2 linked regions of the Homo sapiens genome follow. The main gene of each other region encodes a partner of the protein of the gene in region 2 in a complex. Each region holds a gene or a part of one and is shown on either strand. Other genes may lie near its edges. The genes, in order: RAD1 and RHNO1. A codon is read from its position in the direction of its gene.

Region 1 (11,076 bases), on a different chromosome or scaffold from region 2:
AGAGATTTCCCATTTACCCCCTACCTGCACACATGCCTAGCTTCTCCCTTATCAACATCTCCCACCAGAGCGGTACATTTGTGACAACTGATGAACCCACACTGACACAGCATTATTACCCAAGTCCATAGTTTACATGAGGGTTCACTCTTGGTGGTATACATTCTGTGGGTTTGGAAAAATTATAATGACATATATCCACCATTATAGTATCATACATATTAGTTTCACTGCCCTAAAAATCCTCTGTGCTCTGCCCAAAAGTTTTAAAATTTTACTATTTTGGTGAAATCCCAAAGTCTTAACAAGCCACATTAGAAATATAAAGTTGCATTCTCACTGCAAAACCACAGAAGCTACTTTCTAAATTCAACCAATCTGGATAACCCAATCCAATCAAACACCTGACATTTCTAACAGATCTGAGCTAACATACAGAGCTCTTACAATTCTTCTGAATTAGCTAACAAGCACTGACATTTTTGAGGTGGATGAGGATTAGCTATTTTCCAACAATCTCTGTACCAAGTTAGAAAAAAAAATAATTCAAGCCCAGATCAAGCTGTCTCACATACAGATTTCAATAAATATTGTTATTTTTATTTTATTTTTTGTTGAGACAGGGTCCCACTCTCCTGCCAGACTGGAGTGCAGTGGCATGACCATAGCTCACTGCAGCCTTGAACTCCTGGGCTCAAGCAATCCTCCCGCCTTAGCCTCTGGAGTAGCTGGGACTACATGCATACTCCACACCTGGCTAATTAAAAAAAAAAAATTTTTTTTAGAGATGGAGTCTTGCTATGTTGGCCAGACTAGTCTCAAAACTCCTGGGCTAAAATGGTCCTCCTGCCTCGGCCTCCCAAAGTGCTGGGACTACAGGTGAGAGCCACCACACCTAGCTCAATAAACATTTTTTAGCAAGCAAACAAAAAAGTTTATGTAAACGGCTGGGTGTGGTGGCTCACACCTGTAATCCCAGCACTTTGGGAGGCTGAGGCAGGAGGATCACAAGGTCAAAAGATCGAGACCATCCTGGCCAACATGGTGAAACCCCATCTCTACTAAAAATACAATTATTAGCTCGATGTGGTGGCATGCACCTGTAGTCCCAACTACTCGGGAGGCTGAGGCAGGAGAACCGCTTGAACCTGGGAGGTGGAGGTTGCAGTGAACTGAGATCGCACCACTGCACTCCAGCCTGGCAACAGAGTGGGACTCCATCTCAAAAAAAAAAAAAAAAGTTTATGTAACCTGTTCTGTATGTTCAATGACGTACTACCTGCTGATTTGGTAAGTTCACCCACCACTGCATTAAAGGTCCACTTAAGGCAGGCTTGACAATATTCCAGAAATAGTACTGTCCTAACGTAGTCAGCCACGGCAACCAAAATCCTTGGACAAAATGGCAGGAAGCAAGACCATTTTGGAATCAAGTGTCAGGCACCATGCCTAAGGGTACAGGCCACAGGGTTTACTAGATTGTTACTTCCTTTTTACTTTAGTATGAGGAAATACTCTGAAATAATTTAGTAAGTTCACATATCCTGAATACCTCTAGTTTTGCCAGTGAGAGCCACTACTAGTATCTATTATAATGATCAACAAGCTATGAATTTCAAAAATATATTTCACACATTTACTCTGCTGATTATCGAAATCTCTGGACGTGACTGAGATACAGATACGAAAAGCACTTGAAACCGCTGCTTTTGGTGTTTCTGTTTAGAACACTAGCTGTCCACTCCTGAGAGGGAAATTCTGTTAAAGCTAATGACTCCTCCTGGGGTGCTTGTAACCTGATTCTAGTATAAAAGCAGCACTGCCTATTCCAAAGAGAATGAAAGCAAATTACAAACATAATTGGGAAAAGAAAAAATACTATACACTCCGATTTCTCAGGACCCAATAGATTTTATTTCAGGTGGGGATAAGGGACAAGCAATGTGAAGACAGGGAAGGAAAGAAGGAAGTCTCTATGTTCTGAAGGACTGCCTACCCCACTGTTGAGAGTGCCACATTCTGCCCTTTTAGCAATTTTAATTAATTTTTACTAGGACTTTGGTAACACCACAGAAACCCTGTGGCTTCCTGTTAAAATGACTGTGTTACATGCCTTATTTTTATTAAAGTGGAATTTAACAAATACTTTTATTATTTTGAAGCATTTCATCAATTCTCGGTGGAAGCACTACATCATCGAATGGGAAATCAACAAATGAAAAATGAAAAAAAAGATTATCCATTCACAGTAAGCACCATTTTACTAGAAAGAGAGATAAACTTCAAAAAGACAGAACTAAAAGTCTTTAAATATAAGACTGTATTCTTCTATATACTACACATCAATTTGTAGTGGCACCAAAGTGTCGCCTGCTCTGCCTGAGGGAGCACTCCCCCTAGTGATTTTCCATAGGAAATAAAGTTAAACTTTTATTAAAGTAAAAATTCCTGGGTCAATTAGAACACAAATAAGGAGGAAATTCTTTATAAAATAAGTACCTTGATGTTAGGGTGACTTAGAAACAATTCATTAGTCTTTGAATTCTAAATAGCTGAAGACATGCAGCTAAAACAATAATTTTTATTTTAATTTTTTTTGTTTTTGAGACGGAGTCTTGCTCTGTCACCCAGGCTGGAGTGCAATGGTGCAATCTCGGCTCACTGCAACCCCCGCCTTCCAGTTTCAAGTGATTCTCTTGCCTCAGCCTCTCAAGTAGCTGGGATTACAGACACCCACCACCACACCCAGCTAATTTTTGTATTTTTAGTAGAGGTAGGGGTTTCACCATGTTGGCCAGGCTGATCTCGAACTTCCTGACCTCAGATGATCCCCCTGCCTCGGCTTCCCAAAATGCTGGGATTACAGGTGTGAGCCACCACTCCCGGCCTAAAATAATAGTTTTAAATGTACAAAAATATCCATCCTTACTGAGCTGATTTATATTTGTTTTAAATTCTTTTTAGATTCAACTTTTAAAAAATACATTAGGCCAGGCATGATAGCTCACGCCTGTAATCCCAGCCCTTTGGGAGGCCGAGGCGGGTGGATTGCTTGAGCTCAGGAGTTCAAGATTAGCCTAGGGAACATAGTAAAACCCCATCTCTACAAAAAATACAAAAATTAGCAGGGCATGGAGGCATGCACCTGTAGTCGTAGCTATTTGGGAAGCTGAGATGGGAGGATTGCTTGAGCCTAGGAGATTGAGGCTGGAGTGAACTGTAATCCTACAACTGTACTCCAGCCTGGGCAACAGAGCAAGATCTTGTCTCCAAAAATAAAAATAAAAAAACTGAGATCAAAATAAATTTAGAGCTAAATCATCAGAATTAAGTAGTGACTAATAAGATGCTAAAAGAAAATCTGAAATTGGAGAGTCTTTCATCTAACAGAGTTACTAAATGCCCATTATATGTTAGGCGCCGTTCTTTGTTCACACTAGTAACAAAAGACAAAAAATAACTATGCTATTTCACATTTAACAGTCCTTAGAATGTTGACTGATTAGATATTTTCCCAAGTATCTTTTAGGTTTGTTCTGTTCTTGGTGGTTATCTAAACAAAAAATACTCTGACAACATTTAGTAAATTCATTTGTTTCCTTCTTGAATACAAACATTTTAGAAAATTCCAACTTCTTTTGTAGTCACTGCTAAATTTTGTATGCTGAGATTGAGACACTTACTAGTTATCAGGTGCTGACCCTGGCCACCTCCCAGAATTGTCCATATGCCTGGGAAGCAGTGCCTGCCATTGTGCTGGAGTAGCCTCCTTGCAGCACACTTTGCTGTAATACTCTCCAAACCAATTTTCTCTAATGCTATGTGACCTATATTAAGGTAGGGCATTCCAATATATCCTCCAATTTTGGTGAATACAATTGAATGGTTCTCAACAATGAATAGTTTGGCACACTTTTATTTGGGGGAGGTGGGGTGGTCACAATGACTAGCATCAGTGGGTAAGGGCCAGAAAGGCTAAATGAATCCTGCAATGGGATGACAGGTTTTTATCCTAAAGAACTGTCTCACTCAAAAGGCCAATAGTGACTGTCCATGGAGGGACACTCAGCTGTTGTCACCTGGTACAGTAACAAAGACAGAAGCTTCACTTTACTCATGTAATTTTTTCTACTAGACAGGAAGATAATTTTTGCATTTTATTAAATATATTTATATGCCACAAAAATTATTTTAGTGACAACTACCAGGAAAGTACAAAATCACTTAATAACTGGTTTTCTACACCTTGATTTGTCAAGAAACTCATAAGCAAATGGAAAGTAGTAAGTACTGATTGCAGTTACTTACAGCAAACAGTTTTGAGAAGAAGAAGAAAACCTGTAACACTGAAAATTGCTTTATATCCCATTCATAGATCTCTTCAAAAGGTCTACTTTAAAAATAAATCACATAAAGAATTGTTCAGACTTGTTTGGTGATGCCTCAACTTCAGAACATTTGCAAGGAAATCACATGTAAAAGCAATCATCTCATACAATTAAATGCTATTAAAGAAAAAAAAAGTTTCCTTTAAAACAGTGGTTCCCAAAATTTAGCAGGCATCAGAATCTCCTGAGGGAAGCTTGTTAAAATACAGAATGCTGGCCTCCTCCCCAGAGTTTGCTACAAGTTTGCAGGCCATTCTGATGTTGGTGCGGGCACAACACTTTGAGAACCACTACTTTAAGATCTAGTCTCTAGAATTCAAACTAATAAGCAATGCCCATATGCCTTTGCTTTTTCTAATAATAAATAAATAAAAGATCATTTCAGGTAGCTGCATCAAACTTTAAGCCTTTAGACTTTTTTTTTTTTTTTTTTTGAGGCAGAGTTTTGCTCTTATTGCCTAGGCTGGAGTGCAATGGCGTCATCTCAGCTCACCACAACCTCCGCCTCCCGGGTTCAAGCAATTCTCCTGCCTCAGCCTCCCGAGTAGCTGGCATTACAGGCATGTGCCACCACGTCCGGCTAATTTTTTGTATTTTTAGTAGAGATGGGGTTTCTCCACGTTGGTCAGGCTGGTCTCGAACTCCTGACCTCAGGTGATCCGCCCACCTCGGCTTCCCAAAGTGCTGGGATTAAAGCCACCACACCCGGCCACCTTTAGACTCTTGAAATGTTACGCTGACTCACAATTATTCCCATGAGTTCAAAAGACAGAACTAAAGGACAGTCCTGAATAATCTATGACTACAGGAAAACATTTATTTACATGCCCTCTACAAAATGGATTTACAAAACATAGTAACTATTAGGGTACATGACCTTGCTCCTATCTTCCCCATTGTGCTTCTTCTCTATAGAAAATCCAATATGAAATGACAAAGAGTACTGTACTCAGAATAAGAACTTCATCTATCATAAATGTACACATAAATATCAGTGAATTGTCATACTCAAGACTCAGATTCAGGAACTTCTTCATCAGGGCAGCAGTAATATTCCACAAAACATATTTGTCCATCTTCATTTCTAATCATATACTGTAATGAAAGGAAGCCTCTGTTATCTGTCCGAATAGATACCTTACAAGATAGGACTAATGCCTTTGTAGAGGGTTTCAGTAAGGAAATCTTGTATCTGTAGAAGAAAAAATAAAACGCTGTTATATCAACACAGTGAACACTGCTCAGAACTCCCAAGTAAAGGATAAAAAGTAGCAAATCTAAGAATAAAATCAAGTACTTATCCAATTTGCTAATATTTTCTGTTTTAAAATTCATTCACTGTTAGAACCCTACATCCCCTAGTAAGTCCAGCACTCTACTATTCATTTTTATAAAATGCTGTGCATTTTAATTAACAGATTGAAAGTGTTTTTATTTAACAGAAATCTGGTATTTAACCTCCTCTTTATCACCAATGACAACCTCTATATTAAGAACTGACCTGTTGACTTGGGTCTGATTACAATGAAATGCTTCCATCAAATCAGAATCTTTGGGATAGTCAAGGTGGGAACTTCCTGCATTTCCAAAAGTAGATAACCTATAGAAAATGATTACCTCATTTATTCATTCATCCAAAAATAAACCACATTAGGATCCAAATAAAGAAAACACTTCCTTAAGAAATTCATACTAGTGGGTGAAACAGACATGTACACAAATGCTTATAACACACGATAACAAGTACCATAATAAAGCTCCCACTGGAGTTCAGGACAACTAATCAATGGGTTTGAAGAAAATCAATTGTAAAAGGAAAAGGGTAGGGGACACTTTAATTTCATTACCCTAATCCTACTCTGAAAATGACTTTTCCTCATCCTTAAGTCAGAAATATATAACAGGCGAGAGAATTGAGGACTCATGGAAGACCTTGATCTAAGTCTACTGCAACCCTTAGGTCTGTTCCCAATCCTACACCTAGGAATTACAGCTTTTCTGTATCTTAGACTGCTCTTAAGGCTATTGCATGGTTTTCCTCACTTGGTAATACCAGAAGTTATTTGTAGACAATTTATAAGTGTTAACATGCTGATTTAATTTGCAAGAACTCCTGGAACATTTGCTGCAGGATTAGCACGTTGCTAAGTATTATATGAGCATGGCGATAAGATCCAGGTTGGTTTTCCCTAAGCTCCATTTCTGCCTCCCATCTTCCAGGTGTGGTTTTCCTGGGGTCCATCTTTTCTTTCTTCTAATATAATCTCTCTCTCTGACCCGTCTCATCCATACCCAGCCATGATGATGGTTCCCAAATCTAAATTTCCAGTCTAAATGGATCTCCTGAGCACCATAACTACATATCCAGCCACTCCCTAGTGTCGCAGGTACTTAAAATTTAACATATCCAGGAAAAAATTTCAACTCCTACCTCCCTACCACCAAATTGTTTCCCATCCTGGAGATGAAAGATACCATGGTCCATCTCGTTACCCAGGCTGAGAGAGATCACTGAGGAGATCCCCTGAAATACTGTTTTAAGTACCTGAATTTTTTACTTCATTCCACTGCTAAAGTAAGGTTTCCAATTTCCATTTTGGTTAACTTTCTCAGACCTTGAGCCAAATTTTTAACTCCCCAAAGTCATGACAAGGGCCTGTGATTCTTTTTCTTTTCTTTTTTTTTTTTTGAGACAGATTCTCACTCTGTCACCCAGGCTGGAGTGCAGTGGCGCAATCTCAGCTCACCGCAACCTCCACTTCCTGGGTTCAAGTGATTCTCCCACCTCAGCCTCCCAAGTAGCTGGGATTATAGGCACGTGCCACCACGCCCAACTAATTTTTCTATTTTTAGTAGAGACAGGGTTTCACCACATTGGCCAGGCTGGTCTTGAACTCCTGACCTCAAGTGATCTGCCCACTTCGGCCTCCCAAAGTGCTGGGATTACAGGTGTCTGCCACAGCACTTTTACAGCCGGGCCTGTAATTCTTCTAAAGTAGTTACAAAAAGAATACCTTATTCCTTTTATTCCATATGTATTTAGGGGCTTTAATATTCTGAAATATTTCAAAAAGAGAATATTTAGATCCTCTCTCTAAATTGCTAGAATCTCTGAGTCTAATCCTGAAAAGAGACTTGTGTTAAACTATCAAGAACAGCTTTTTTGACATTGTACTCCTGCTGAAAACTGCCCTCCCTTGGGAAGCCAGCCTTGAGCAATCCTCCCTAAATCCTTATACAGCATTTCCCAGGTATCTGTGTGTGCTATCTTGGTACTTAATGGTTTGCTGTTTCACATTTTCTTGGCTTCACCTTGGTTTTAAGCTGTTCTTCCCACAATGCTTAATAAGATGAATAAGCACACGGTAGGTGATCAACAGATACTTAGTGAATGAATGAGCCACGTGTAGAAAACATCTTCTTCTGCATCCTGAACTAACTTGAAAAAGATACCATAATACAAACACCCTTTCCAAACACTTAAACCCAATTTTCCTCATGATGTAACCTGATCTATGAAAGTAAGGAGTAGTACAATGAAAACACCACCAGTTTATAAATTAGAGGACTGGGCTTCTCATCTAGATGCCACCACCACCTAAATATGAAATAGTGAGTTAATCTTCCTGGGTCTTAAGTTTCTTGATCCATAAAATTATGAGGTAAGAGTACAAGCTGTCTAAAGTTGTGAAAACTCTAAAAATGTGGATAATAAAAATTTTGCATCCTAAGCAAATGTCTAAGTGGGAAGATGGAGTACAGACCACATTAACTATAACTGCACTGCTCTCAAGTACCTGAAATAAGGCTTGTCAGGAGACATGGTAATTTGTAGGACTTCACTCGTCATATCCAATTCAGAAAATGCTTCACGGAGCCCCTCTGACTGCAGAATAATTTTATTAATAACATTGGTGCTGCAGAAATCAAAGTCCAGGGTCTCCTCAGGTTCCTGTGTATTGATTTTGCAGACTGTCACCACTCCTCCTTCTTCCAGGAACAGCATCAAAGGGTAACCATAACCTTGGTAACACATTCGAAGTGCAGTTAAAGTCCCTGCAATGGAAAGAAGTCATACTTGGCCTTAGCTTTATAGTTCTGGGTTCAGCTTCTCCTCGAAATGATACATAAAATTTCTCAAGAATAATTTATTCCGCCCAATTTCTCACATATATGTATCTCCTCATAAAAAGGGATGACATCTTCCCTGATGACAGTTGTGTGTAGAGAATTCCAAAACTACAAGAAAATTGGGAACCAGAACAAAATGTAACATAATTCTTTGGAATCATTTTCAGGTTGTCATACACACCTCAGAAATAGCTTGTTGATTTTATATATGTACAATTTCAGGGTAGAGAATCTATATGGATCAACACAGCAAGTAACTAAATTGCTGCAGAACAGGGTATGCTATTCCTTGAAGGTTCAATGTGTGTAACAGTGGATTGCTGTCATCTGTACTGTAACGTCAGTGTACTCACTATGACAAGGATCCTTCCAACTTTTCCAACTGGGAGATATTCTTTATATTTCCTCGAATTTAAAAATCAAATTGAGAGAAAAAGAGGGTTGTTAATGGTGGTGTAAATTTTAACTCTGCAAACCACTAGAGGGAAGGAGGAATATGACAGGATATTCAAACTCCTTCTCCTTACTGGATTGAGAGCCACAGTGAGGAATGGAAGATGACAGATGCTTCTGTGAAAAACTAGCTGGAGAACACTGTATTAGAAAATGTATAATTAATAATAGTGGAATTGTCTGTGGAAACGTAAAATACATTTTTCTGGAGAACTATATTGAATTTTTCCTAGCTAATCTCCAGGTTGCTTTCCTATGAAATAAAATCATTCTTCTGGGGATTCCTTAGTTTTATACCCACAGCAATTCAATTTCACCATTCTTAAAAATTCCCTTAACAAATAAAAAAATATATATTTTAAAGAAAATCATTCGGCAACCGGTTGCGGTGGCTTATGCCTGTAATCCCAGAACTTAGAGAGACTGAGGCGGGCAGATCACCTGAGGTCAGGAGTTTGAGACCAGCCTGGCTAATATGGTGAAACCCCATCTCTACTAAAAATACAAAAAATTAGCCGGGCGTGGTGGCACGTGCCTGTAATCCCAGCTACTCGGGAGGCTGAGGCAGAAGAATCACTTGAACCCGGGAGGCAGAGGTTGCAGTGAGCTGAGACTGTGCCATTGTACTGCAGCTTGGGCAACAAGAGAGAAACTCTGTCTCAAAAACACCACAAAATCATTTGGCAAAATAGACATAACTTATAAAATATGGCTTAAAAGAAACAAATTTTGAACATAGTAAACTAGGAGTCAGAACTGGCTTTTGTTTTTCTCTGCCACTAACTAGCGGAGTAATTCTGGACAAGTTAGGAAAAAGAAGCAATTAAAACATTTCACAATGCTAAAAATATTTAAGACATGTCCAAAGTATTCTTTTGGCCAGTTCGAATTTACAATCCCTCAAAGCCTTGTAAATTAAAAAAAAAATGCAAATACTTTTACAAATATGAAAAGAATTATAAACACACTTGCAATTAACATTGTGAAATGTTAGAACCCATGACTGTGGCCACTGAAAAATGAATTGGCATTAGCTTTCTGAACCAATGTTTATGTTCCAAATAACTTCCTGTATTTTTCTGACCACTATGTATAACACTTTTATGTCTTTATACTGATCATAGTTTACCTGGCATAGGACTTGATCCAAAAATAGATAAACAGTCTAAAAGGACAGTTAAATTAATTCGAAAAGTAACAGACTCTTCCTGAACTTTAAACTCCTGAAATATTCCAGCCTATGAAAAGAGTAAAAATGAAAATTGTTACATAAAAGAATAAAAACTAATAATATAAGGTCCTAGATTTCACTTTATACGTTTAAAAAATACAATACTGTGCTAATCCCATGAGAATAATTTCTGATTAGCAATCAAAACATCTTAGAGACATCCTTTGAAGCATCCTTATCTCCATTCCTGGATCTAAAACTATCCCTCTGTGACTCTCCCTTGTCTCGTTTTTGTGCCTATCACTACTGCTAAGGTCACTTGGAAAATAGACGAATGACTTGATAATGCATGAGCAACATTAGTTTCAACTTTTATTATGATTTTTTATTGATACGGGGGTCTCACTATGATTACCCAGGCTGGTCTTTAATGCCTGAGCTCAAGCGATCTTCGTGCTTCAGCCTCGGTCTCCTGAGCAGCTGGAAATACAGGTGTGAGCCACCATACCATGCCCCTGCATGAGGACAAGAACCGTGTCTTATTTACCTCTCTATCCCTGAGATCATGCTGTGCACTTACGTGTTAAAAAACGCTTAGTTGAACTTGCAATCCTATCTGAACCACACAAATATTACTTTGGAAGAACAAAAATTCTATTACAACCAGTAAAGGAAAAAAATACTCTTTAGTAATAGCATATCGCAGTGGAAAAAAGAGCATATATTCTGGAAACAAATATTCAGCGTTCTTATCCCAATTCAGCCACTTACCAGCTGTGGGACTGTTGGCAAATCACTTAAAATTGTGCCTCGTTTCCACATATATAAAACGGGAATAATAACAGAACCTACCTTACAGGACTATTGTTAAGATTAAATAAGTTAAACAATAAGAAGACTGTAGCCTAGCCAATAGCCTAGTTTAATAAACTT
Region 2 (11,351 bases):
AACTCCTGACCTCGTGATCCACCCGCCTCGGCCTCCCAAAGTGCTGGGATTACAGGCGTGAGCCACCATGTCCAGCCAAAGTTTCTATTCTTAAGGAACTAACATCTTATAGAAAACACAAAAAATATATATATCCATTTGTTCATTCACTCATTCATTCACTTGAGAAATATTTACTGAGTGCCTACTGTGTGCTAGGCACTGTTCCAGGTGCTGAAAATATATACCAGAGAATAACATAAAACCTCTGCCCTTGTGGTGCTTACATTCTAGTCGGAAAGGAATAAAAAGTATAGAGAGGCCGGGCGCAGTGGCTCATGCCCTTAATACCAGCAGTTTAGGGAGCTGAGGCGGGCAGATTACTTGAAGTCAGGAGTTCAAGACCAGCCTGCCCAACATGGTGAAACCCCATCTCTACTAAAAATACAAAAATTAGCCAGGCGTCATGGCACACACCTATAATCCCTGCTACTCAGGAGGCTGAGACAGGAGAATCGCTTGAACCCGGGAGGCGGAGGTTGCAGTGAGCCGAGATCACGCCACTGCACTCCAGCCTGGGCAACAGAGCGAGATTCAGTCTAGAAAACAAACAAACAAAAAGCTACCACAGAAATCCAGTGAAAAGATAACAGTGGTAGCAATGGCTATAGTTTTGAAATTCATGACTTGCTGAAAGTCATCAGCTTCAAATGGGTACGTTGCTCAGCAATCCTGTTTCCTTGATCAACTCATTCTCCACAAAGATTATCTTAAAACTTCTCCAAGCTAGGTGCAGTAGCTCACGCCTGTAATCCCAGAACTTTAGGAGGCTGAGATGGGAGGACTGCTTGAGGCCAGGAGTTCAAGACCAGCCTGGGCAACATAGAGAGACCTCGTCTCTACTACAAATTTAAAAGAATAATTAGCTTGGCATGTTGGCATGTACCTGTAGTCCCAGCTACTTGGGAGGCTGAGGTGGGAGGATCACTTGAGCCTGGGAATTTGAAGATATGGTGAGCTATGATCGTGCCACTGCACTCTAGCCTAGGTGACAGACAGACCCTATCTCAAAATAAATAAATAAAGTGGAAATTTTGTTTGTTTGTTTTGAGACAAAGTCTCACTCTGTTGCCCAGGCTGGAGTGCAGTAGCGTGATCTCGGCTCACTGCAACCTCCTCCTAGGTCCAAGCGATTCTCCTGCCTCACTCTCCCAAGTAGCTGGGATTACAGGCGCCCTCACCACGCCCAGCTAATTATAGTATTTTTTAGTAGAGATGGGGTTTCACCACGTTGGCCAGACTGGTCTTGAACTCCTGACCTCAGGTGATCTGCCCACCTCGGCCTCCCAAAGTGCTGGGATTACAGGCGTGAGCCACCACGCCCAGCCTGAACATTTTTATTTTAATTTTTAAAATTATTTTTAGAGATGGGGTCCTGTTCTGTTGCCCAGGCTGGAGTACAGTGACACGATCATAGCTCACTGCAGCCTCAAACTCTTGGGCTCGAGAGATCCTCTTGCCTCAGCCTCCCGAATAGCTGGGAATACAGACAAGCACCACCACACCTGGTTAGTTTCTTATTTTATTTTTTGTAGAGATGAGGTCTTGCTTGAACTCCTGGGCTCAAGTGATTCTCCTCCCTCAGCCTCCTGAAGTGCTAGGATTACATGTGAATCACCACACCCTGCCCACTTTCTTAGAACTTCAGAACACCCCTTTTCTCTTAACAAATGACTTTACTTCCTACTTGACAAAGAATACAGAAGACATCAAAGGAAATACTCTCATTTTCCAGAAAGCAAATATACAAACCTATGCGTATCAACATCTATCTTCTTTCTGCTCTAATTAGAGGTCAGTTCATTCTGCTGTCTAAGTCCTTCCCCTCTGGTTGTGCTTTGGAGCTGTTCTCACTCTATATACTTTTCTTAGGCAAACTCATCTGCCTGTATTTCAGTATCCACCTAGAAGTAGATGACTTCAATATTTATATATTTTAGAATTCCTTAAGTTTGGGACCCAAATATCCCATTACCTACCTGAACAGCAACTAGATATTTCAAACGCACCTCAAATTCAACATGTGTAAGGCTGAGCGCAGTGGCTCACGCCTGTAATCCCAGCACTTTCAGAGGCCGGGGTGGGCAGATCGCTTGAGCTCATGAGTTTGAGACCAGCCTGGGCAACACAGTGAAACCCAAATTCTACAAAAAATACAAAAAATCAGGTGGGCACGGCTGCGTGCACCTGTAGTCCCAGCTACTCAGGAGGCTGAGGTGGGCAGATCACTTGAGCCCAGGAGGTGGAGGCTGCAGTGAGCCGAGATCGTGCCACTGAACTCCAGCCTGAGTGACAGAGCCAGAACCTTGTTTCAAAAAAAGAAAAGAAAAAAAAATTCAACAAGTTTAAAACTGAACTTGGCCGCGCACAGTGGCTCATGCCTGTAATGCCAACACTGTGAAAGGTGAAGGTGGGAGGATCACTTGAACCGAATAGTTCAAGATCAATCTGGGCAACAGAGTGAGACCCTGTCTCTACAAAAGATACAAAAATTAGATGGGTGTAGTGGCATGTGCCTGTAGGGGGTCCCAGCCATTCAGGAGGCTGAGGTGGGAGGATCACCTGAGCCCAGGAGGTTGAGGTTGTAGTGAGCCAAGGTCATGCCACTGGACTTCAGCCTGGGGGACAGAGCAAGACCCTGTCTCTAAAAAATAAAAAGATAAATAAAAATAAATATATAATTAAAAAAAAAACTCATTCTGAGCATTGCTTTGTAGTAAAAAAACAAAAACTGAATTCACGATCATTCCCCTGACAACCCCCCGCCCGTCCCTTGGCCAAAGTGATTATCTTCCAGGGCCCTTGGTCAGGGAATAGTGTCATTATTCCTTCAGTTATGCAGCTGAAAATCTTGACACTTCTACCTCCCATCCAACCCACCATCAAGCCCTGTCAACTTTACCTCTTAAACATGTTTTCTTAATGCCCCTTTTTTACTCTCTCTGTCTCCTTCTTTCTCTTCCTCTCTCTCTCTCCCTGCCACCCTTTTTCAAGCTCCAGCAGTTCTTGCCTGGAGTATTGCAACATCCAACTGTTCTGCCCTAATCCACTCTAGCAATCCCCGCTATAGAGGGACCTTTTAAAATGCAAATCTGACCTGGATTCACTTCTGCTTAAAGCTTATGACTGGTTTCCTTTAATTCTTGGATAAGCACAAAACTTCTCGGTATGGCTAAGGCTCTGCTTCCTCCGGCTCCAGCTTCAACTCACACCACACTCCATTCAGGTCGATTAGCTCAAACCCCTCAGATATTTCTCAGCCTTTGTACTCACTGTGCTTCCTCCTGCCATCCAGCCTTTGCACGCCTGATTCCCTCTGCTTAGAGGAGTTCCCTCCTTTCTTTGTAAAAGGCATCAGATCTCACACCAAGCTCTCATTACAAAAGCCTTTCCTGTCCTACCTCTCAAGATCTCGTTATTGTAAATACTCAAAGTATCATTAACCTCTAATGTTTCAATTTACAGCAATAATTCAACATTTGTTTGTTTTGGAGACGGTGTCTCCCTCTGTCGCCCAGGCTGGAGTGCAGTGGTGTGATCATGGCTTACCATAGCCTCCACCTCTCGGCCTCAGGTGATCCTTCCACCTCAGCCTCCAGAGTAGCTGGGACTACAGGCACGCACCACCACGCCCGGCTAATTTTTAGTAGAGAAGCGGTTTCGCTATGTTGCCAGGCTGGTCTCGAACTCGTGACCTCAAGTGATCCACCCGCCTCGGCCTCCTAAAGTGCTGGGATTACAGGCGTGAGCCACTATGCCCAGCCCACATTTGTTTATTTGATTAAAATGTCTGTGCCCCTCTTCCAGGATTGGGCTGTGAGCCCAGGGGAAGGAAAGAACCTTGTCTGCCATTGTATCTTCAGGGCCTAGCGGTGCCTGGCGCACAGCAGTTGCTCAACTAGACTGGTTGACTAAGTCAATAAATAAAGCACTACGGTCTATTATATCCGAAGGCTTGGCTTCGGGAGGGGCAAAAGACAGGTTTCGCGCTGAGGTAGGGTTCATGGTGCCGACATTTTTTTTCAAGATGGAAGAAAGCGGAGATAATACGCAGCCCTCAAAGGAACTTAGTCTAATCGGGGGGAGCAGACGATCGTTCACTGTGGGAAAATGGGGTACGATTTCCCCCAGTGAGGAAATCAACTAAAGCCGAGCTTTGAAAAGGGGAGCAGAGGAGCCTGAGGGGAAGCGGGGGCGTGTCGCCTGGCGTGACCAGCGCGGCAGGAAAAGCGGGCCCAGGGACCCGGGCCTGTCACGCCGCTTCCGCGCGTCCCCAAACTCTCCCTCGGCTCGCCCACCCACGCGGCGGGGACCCCTCCGGCCCCTCCCCGGCCCCACGGCCACTTCTTCCCCCACAAGCCGGCCTGCGGTCCGCCTTACCAGCCCGGGCCGGACGGGGCCGCAGCTCCTGGCAGACCGCACAGCCTTCGAGCCCGGAATGCCGAGACAAGGCCGGCGCCGATTGGCGACGTTCCGTCACGTGACCTTAACGCTCCGCCGGCGCCAATTTCAAACAGCGGAACAAACTGAAAGCTCCGGTGCCAGACCCCACCCCCGGCCCCGGCCCGGGACCCCCTCCCCTCCCGGGATCCCCCGGGGTTCCCACCCCGCCCGCACCGCCGGGGACCCGGCCGGTCCGGCGCGAGCCCCCGTCCGGGGCCCTGGCTCGGCCCCCAGGTTGGAGGAGCCCGGAGCCCGCCTTCGGAGCTACGGCCTAACGGCGGCGGCGACTGCAGTCTGGAGGTGAGCGGGATGCAGCAATGGAGTCCCAGGCCTGGCCTGGGCACAGGCGGGGAGCAAGGCCTCCGGGCGCGGAGGTCAGGGCGTCTAGCAGCAGGGCACGGGCCACGAGTGGAGATTTGGGTCACACGGGAAGAATCTGAGCCAGGGTGCAAGTTTTTTCTGCGTCCACCTCCTGGCCGTGGCCTTCTCACTGCTTAAAGCGCCCCTTGGCCTTCCCTGGAAGTCTGACCTCCGCACCCTGCCCGCGGCCTCGGGAGGGCTGGGGTGGCCTACCTTCTTAGGCCGACTGTGGCTGAGATGAAGACTGAGATTGTACTACATTGAGTCAAAGACCAACCTGCATACACACTCCCCTGCTCCCAGGCTGTCTCACCACTAGGCAACACCGCCTCCATCTTACTTACCCTTTTGCAGGGCCCTTTTCCTGGTTCTTGAGAATGTAGCAAGATTTCCCCGCTCAGGATGGGGATGGGTCGGAGGAGCCACTCTGGAAGTTTCCCGGGCAAGAAAGTGTTGGCAATAATAATAACGGGCTGGTCAGGAAGTAGAAGAGAAAATTAAGACTTAGATATCCTGTGGAAAAAGAGGAATAATATCTACTGATTGATGCGGGGAGAGAGGGAAGCCTGGAAAGATCGGAGGTGAAAGTAAAACTGAGATTTGAAGGTAGAGGTGTGGAGGGCCTGTGAACTCTATGCAGATGACAAATGTCAAAAAAGTGCAGTTGCTTTTCAGGGAGAGAATAAGTGTCCTAAAAAAGAGACAGCCAATTCCTCTGTCTTCCAAAGTTCCGTGAAATAGAATTACACAATTTTGCTTAATGGTAGAATATTCCATGTATCTATTAAAATCAACAAAAGGCCGGGCGCAGTGGCTCACGCCTGTAATCCCAGCACTTTGGGAGGCCGAGGCGGGTGGATCACCTGAGGAGTTCAAGACCAGCCTGGCAAACATGGTGAAACCCTGTTTCTACTAAAAAAAAAAAAAAAAAATTAGCTGGGCATGGTGGTGCATGCCTGTAATTGCAGCTACTCGGGAGGCTGAGGCAGGAGAATCGCTTGAACCCGGGAGGCCGAGGTTGCAGTGAGCTGAGATTGCGCCATTGCACTCCAGCCTGGGTGACAAGAGCGAAGCTCCGTCTCAAAAAAAAAAAAAAAATTAAAAAAAATCAACAAAAGACTTAAAAAAAAAAGACTACACTGTTAGCATTTCAGAACCACCTTAGTGTAATGATGATAGCTCATTGTGGTACTAAGAAGACAGGGGTTATAGTCTTATTTCTGGAAAAGAAATTAATAAAGTGGCATGCTTAGTTAAAATATATATAACCACATGCAAGTACTAAAATGCCACTGTATAAATACAATACAAATTGTAAAAGAAAACATGCTTTTTAAATTAGAGCAAGTATAATAGCCTGTGAAATAAATGTCACCCTCTAGAGTTGTTCAGTGCACAAGCTGCACAACTTTACATGGGCCTTCAGTAGAGGTTTCCATTTTATGTGAGGTTTTGTAAACTGGGAGATGATTTTTCCAGTAGTGTGGCAATAGTACAATCTGCCTTTCTTCCCTGATTCTGTGTGCACTGGTCCTATTTACAAAGTAATATAAAAATCAAAAGGCTTGGCCAGACGCGGTGGCTCACGCCTGTAATCCCAGCACTTTGGGAGGCCGAGGCGGGCAGATGACCTGAGGTCAGGAGTTTGAGACCAGCCTGAGCAACATGGTGAAACCCTGTCTCTACTAAAAATACAAAAACTAGCCGGGCGTGGTGGTGGGCACCTGTAATCCCAGCTACTCAGGAGGCTGAGACGTGGGACTCGCTTAAACCCAGGAGGCAGAGGTTGCAGTGAACTGAGATCGTGCCACTGCACTCCAGCCTGGGTGACAAAGTGAGACTCTGTCTCAAAAAAAAAAAAAAAAAAAAAATTAAAATCCTTTGTCTTGAATGGATTATGGGATCAGAGTTTCATCAGGACTCCTAATTACCATATGCTTTCCTATTCTAGCATCTTCCATTTCTGTCCATACAGTCATTGCAAGTGATCTATTTATATTATAGTAGGCAATTATAGAGATTTCCACATATTTGTAGCTATCCCATCCATTTCTGTAGCCAAATATTCTGAAGCTTCAAGGAGATCTTTGTCTTATCTCCAACCCAGTCCCATTTTTGCCCTTTGAATTGCTTCTGTCTGCTGTAATTTTAGCCTTCTTTTGTCAGTAAAGCTTATCTCCTTATTATCTGAGGTCTTTACAAAAGTCCATGGAATGTTTACCTGGGCCTTTAGGCTCATGTTCCTGGTCATATAAAGAGGAGCACCTTTCTCTAAAAGGACCTCTTCTCAGCCTAAACAATCTCTAACATCTTGCCACTATTTGCATTTTCCAGGGTCCACACTTGTGATTCTCAATGGAGAGTGAAAACGCAGATTCATAATGAAAACTAGCCCCCGTCGGCCACTGATTCTCAAAAGACGGAGGCTGCCCCTTCCTGTTCAAAATGCCCCAAGTGAAACATCAGAGGAGGAACCTAAGAGATCCCCTGCCCAACAGGAGTCTAATCAAGCAGAGGCCTCCAAGGAAGTGGCAGAGTCCAACTCTTGCAAGTTTCCAGCTGGGATCAAGATTATTAACCACCCCACCATGCCCAACACGCAAGTAGTGGCCATCCCCAACAATGCTAATATTCACAGCATCATCACAGCACTGACTGCCAAGGGAAAAGAGAGTGGCAGTAGTGGGCCCAACAAATTCATCCTCATCAGCTGTGGGGGAGCCCCAACTCAGCCTCCAGGACTCCGGCCTCAAACCCAAACCAGCTATGATGCCAAAAGGACAGAAGTGACCCTGGAGACCTTGGGACCAAAACCTGCAGCTAGGGATGTGAATCTTCCTAGACCACCTGGAGCCCTTTGCGAGCAGAAACGGGAGACCTGTGGTATGTGGTCTTCCAGGGAAAGGGGTGAGGGAGCCCAGCCTTTCCTCTGTAGTGGCAAGGTGTGTAGTCAGTCTTGATGCTTACAACAGTCAGGCTTCTGGCCGAGCACAGTGGCTCATCCCTGTAATCCCAGCACTTTGGGAGGCTGAGGCGGGCGGATCACTTGAGGTCAGCAGTTTGGACTAGCCTGGCCAACATGGTGAAACCCGTCTCTACTAAAAATATAAAAAAACTAGCCGAGCGTGGTGGCACACGTCTGTAGTCCCAGCTACTCTGGAGGCTGAGGCAGGAGAATCGCTGAACCTGGGAGGTGGAGGTTGCAGTGAGCTGAGATTATGCCACTGCACTCCAGCCTGGCCACAGAGGGAGACTCTGTCTCAAAAAAAAAAATAAAAATGAAAAAAGAAGGGGTCTCAAAAATAAATAAATGAAGAAGGGGTCTCACTATGTTGCCCAGGCTGGTCTCGGACTCCTGAGCTCAAGGGATCCAACCATATGGGCCTCCCAAGGTGCTGGGATTATAGGCATGAACGACAGCGCCTGACTTCATTTTCCTTCTTTTTTTTTTTTTTTTTTTTGAGATGGAGTCTTGCTCTGTTGCCCAAGCTGTAGTGCAGTGGTGCAATCTCAGCTCACTGCAATCTCCACCTTCTGGGTTCAAGTGATTCTCCTGCCTCAGCCTTCTGAGTAGCTGGGATTACAGGCACCCGCCACCACACCTGGCTAATTTTGGTATTTTTTAGTAGAGACAGGGGTTTGCCATGTTAGCCAGGTTGGTCTTGAACTCCTGACCTCAGGTGATTCGCCCACCTCGGCCTCCCAAAGTGCTGGGATTACAGGTGTGAGCCACTGCGCCTGGCCTCATTTTCCTTCTTGATAAAGGAGAAAACTGAAGCAAGAGGAGGAAAATGACTTTTTCTTTAGAGATGCGGTCTCGCACTGTCACCCAGGCTAGAGTGCAGTGGCGCAATCACGGCTCACTCTAGCCTCGAATGCCTGGACTCAAGCCATTCTCCCACATCAGCCTCCCAAGTAGCTGGGACTATAGGCATGCACCATCATTCCCAGTTAATTTTTTTTTTCTTTTTGCAGAGATGGGGTCCCACTATATTGCCCAGGCTGAAAAGTGACTTTTTTGGTGTGCATATCTCAATAATTCTTTTGTAAGCCTGCCTTGATTGATCTCTAAGGCTCAGTGTGGCTCAGCTTGAAATGCAATTTGAACTATGCTCCTAAATTTGTCCTGAAATGCATAATGGGGCAGAGTAACTTAGAGCCACAATAGATTCAGCATGTGTTCTCCGTCCCTAAAGGCAGAGGTCTTGGACAAGTGATCCCTAGCCACCAATTCTTTCTTTTTTATTTTTTATTTTTCTGAGACAGAGTCTCACTCAGGCTGGAGTGTAGTGGCGCAATGTTGGCTCACTGCAGCCTTCGTCTCCCGGGTTCGAGCAATTCTCCTGTCTCAGCCTCCTGAGTAGCTGGGACTACAGGCGTGTGCCACCACACCCAGCTAATTTTGTATTTTTAGTAGAGACGAGGTTTCACCATGTTGGCCAGGCTGGTCTTGAACTCCTGACCTCAGGAGATCCACCCGCCTCGCCCTCCCAAAGTGCTAGGATTACAGGTGTGAGCCACTGCACCCGGCCTGCTAGCCACCAATTCTGATGGACACACCTGGGCATCTGATGAGGCAGCTAAGTGGGGTGTTGGATTATTTTCCCTCTAGCAGATGGTGAGGCAGCAGGCTGCACTATCAACAATAGCCTATCCAACATCCAGTGGCTTCGAAAGATGAGTTCTGATGGACTGGGCTCCCGCAGCATCAAGCAAGAGATGGAGGAAAAGGAGAATTGTCACCTGGAGCAGCGACAGGTTAAGGTGAATTGTTCCGTCCCTCACTAAAGAAATCAGATCCAGTGTAGGGAATTCCTAGGTAGGGAAATGGATCAAGTGGCCTGATGGACCAGAATTTCCAAGTTCTGGTATTAGCTCTCCACTTCATGCTATTCTGCATAACTTTTGAGCTATTTTTCTGCCTGGGATCTTTTCTCTCCCATCTGTGAAATTTCCTTGAGGGCAGAGTCCCTTGGTCACTCTGTATTCCAGCCAGCACTGGGTTTAGTATTTTGTCCTTAGTAGGTATTCAGGAAATGATTAAGAGGTCTTCATTTTGGGAATCCACCTGAACTTTAAAGATGCTTCCCAACAGTATGAACAGTATGAATTGAATAGAATACAACAAGTTAATTTTATTAGAAGATATAATATTAATAGCAGATAAAGTCAGTTATATATATACACGTATATATATTTTTTTTTTTTAAGACAGCGTCTTGCTCTGTTGCCCAGGCTGGAGCGCAATGGTGCAGTCATGGCTCTCTGCAGCCTCGACCTCCAGGGCTCAACTGATCCTTCTACCTCAGTCTTCCAAGTAGCTGGGACTTGCCAGCTTGGTGCATGCCACCATGCCCAGCTAATTTTTGTATTTTTTGTAGAGATGGGGTTTCGCTATGTTGCCCAGGCTGATTTCAACTCCTGGGCTCTAGTGATCCTCCTGCCTCAGCCTCCCAAAGGGCTGGGATTACAGGCGTGAACCACCAGCCTGGCCTAGATACGAATTTTAAATACTTCTCTAGCAATCAAAATTGATCTAACCCAATTGTGTAGTCTGGGTTTTTTTCCCACAGTTACCAATATAACACATCTAGATTCTATTGTATATATGTGTAAATCACTCATTCAACCTTTATTTTCTTTTTTTTCTCAACTTTTATTTTAGGTTCAGGGGGTACATGTGCAGGTGTGTTACATGGGTATATTGTGTGTCGCTGGGGTTTAGTGTACAAATGATTTTGTCACCCAGGTAGTGAGTATAGTACCTGCTAGGTAGTTTTTCTGTCTCCCCCTCCTCCCACTCTCCACCCTCAAGAAGGCCCTGGTGTCTAGTGTTCCCTTCTTCATATCCATGTGTGCTCAATGTTTAGCTCCTGCTTTTTTTTTTTTTTTTTTTTTTTTTGAGACGTAGTCTTTCTCTGTCTCCTAGGCTGGAGTGCAGTGCTGCGATTTCAGCTCACTGCTACCTCCACCTCCCAGGTCAAGTGATTCTCCTGCCTCAGACTTCTGAGTAGCTGGGATTACAGGTGCCCGCTGCCACGCCCGGCTAATTTTTGTATTTTTAGTAGAGATGGGGTTTCACTATGTTGGCCAGGCTGGTCTTGAACTCCTGACCTCGTGATCCACCTGCCTTGGCCTTCCAAAGTGCTGGGATTACAGGCGTGAGCCACTGCGCCCGGCCTCTTTTTTTTTCTTTTTGAGACGGATTCTCTCTTTGTTGCCAGGCTGGAGTGCAGTGGCACAATCTCTGCTCACTGAAACCTCTGCATCCCAGGTTCAAGTGATTCTCCTGCCTCAGCCTCCCGAGTAGCTGGGACTATAGGCGCCCGCCACCACGCCCGGCTAATTTTTTTATTTTTAGTAGAGATGGGGTTTCACCATGGTGGCCAGGATGGTCTCAATCTCTTGACCTCGTCATCCACCCGCCTCAGCCTCCCAAAGTGTTGGGATTACAGGCGTGAGCCACCGTACCCAGCCTAGTTCCTACTTATAAGTGAGAACATGCAATA

Evidence for each region.
Region 1: the proteins of RHNO1 (region 2) and RAD1 are in contact, whole or in part, in a crystal structure (PDB 6J8Y), measured with the Homo sapiens proteins. Residues at the interface, in NP_001239428.1 of Homo sapiens: Ser55, Trp56, Val57, Ser58, Pro59, Asp60, Phe61, Asp62, Thr63; in NP_002844.1 of Homo sapiens: Asn47, Gly48, Ile49, Lys50, Phe64, Ile65, Gln66, Ser149 (codon at 8,307), Lys155 (codon at 8,289), Ile157 (codon at 8,283), Glu211 (codon at 5,924), Ala212 (codon at 5,921), Lys240 (codon at 5,528), Val241 (codon at 5,525), Ser242 (codon at 5,522), Arg244 (codon at 5,516), Gln254 (codon at 5,486), Tyr255 (codon at 5,483), Met256 (codon at 5,480), Phe266 (codon at 5,450), Glu268 (codon at 5,444).

Annotation. Positions count from the first base shown.
Region 1 is NC_000005.10:34,903,369-34,914,444, forward strand, and holds the end of RAD1 (cell cycle checkpoint protein RAD1), read right to left. Parts: intron 10,211-11,076; coding exon 10,102-10,210; intron 8,445-10,101; coding exon 8,186-8,444; intron 5,989-8,185; coding exon 5,890-5,988; intron 5,581-5,889; coding exon 5,397-5,580; 3' UTR 2,227-5,396; coding exon of another isoform or gene 2,163-2,226; 3' UTR 1,892-2,162; downstream 1-1,891. UniProt on the Homo sapiens protein: Component of the 9-1-1 cell-cycle checkpoint response complex that plays a major role in DNA repair. The 9-1-1 complex is recruited to DNA lesion upon damage by the RAD17-replication factor C (RFC) clamp loader complex.
Region 2 is NC_000012.12:2,870,351-2,881,701, reverse strand, and holds the start of RHNO1 (RAD9, HUS1, RAD1-interacting nuclear orphan protein 1), read right to left. Parts: upstream 4,480-11,351; 5' UTR 4,420-4,479; intron 1-4,419. Other genes in the region: FOXM1 (forkhead box protein M1), read left to right, coding at 7,224-7,725, 9,455-9,606. UniProt on the Homo sapiens protein: Involved in microhomology-mediated end-joining (MMEJ) DNA repair by promoting recruitment of polymerase theta (POLQ) to DNA damage sites during mitosis.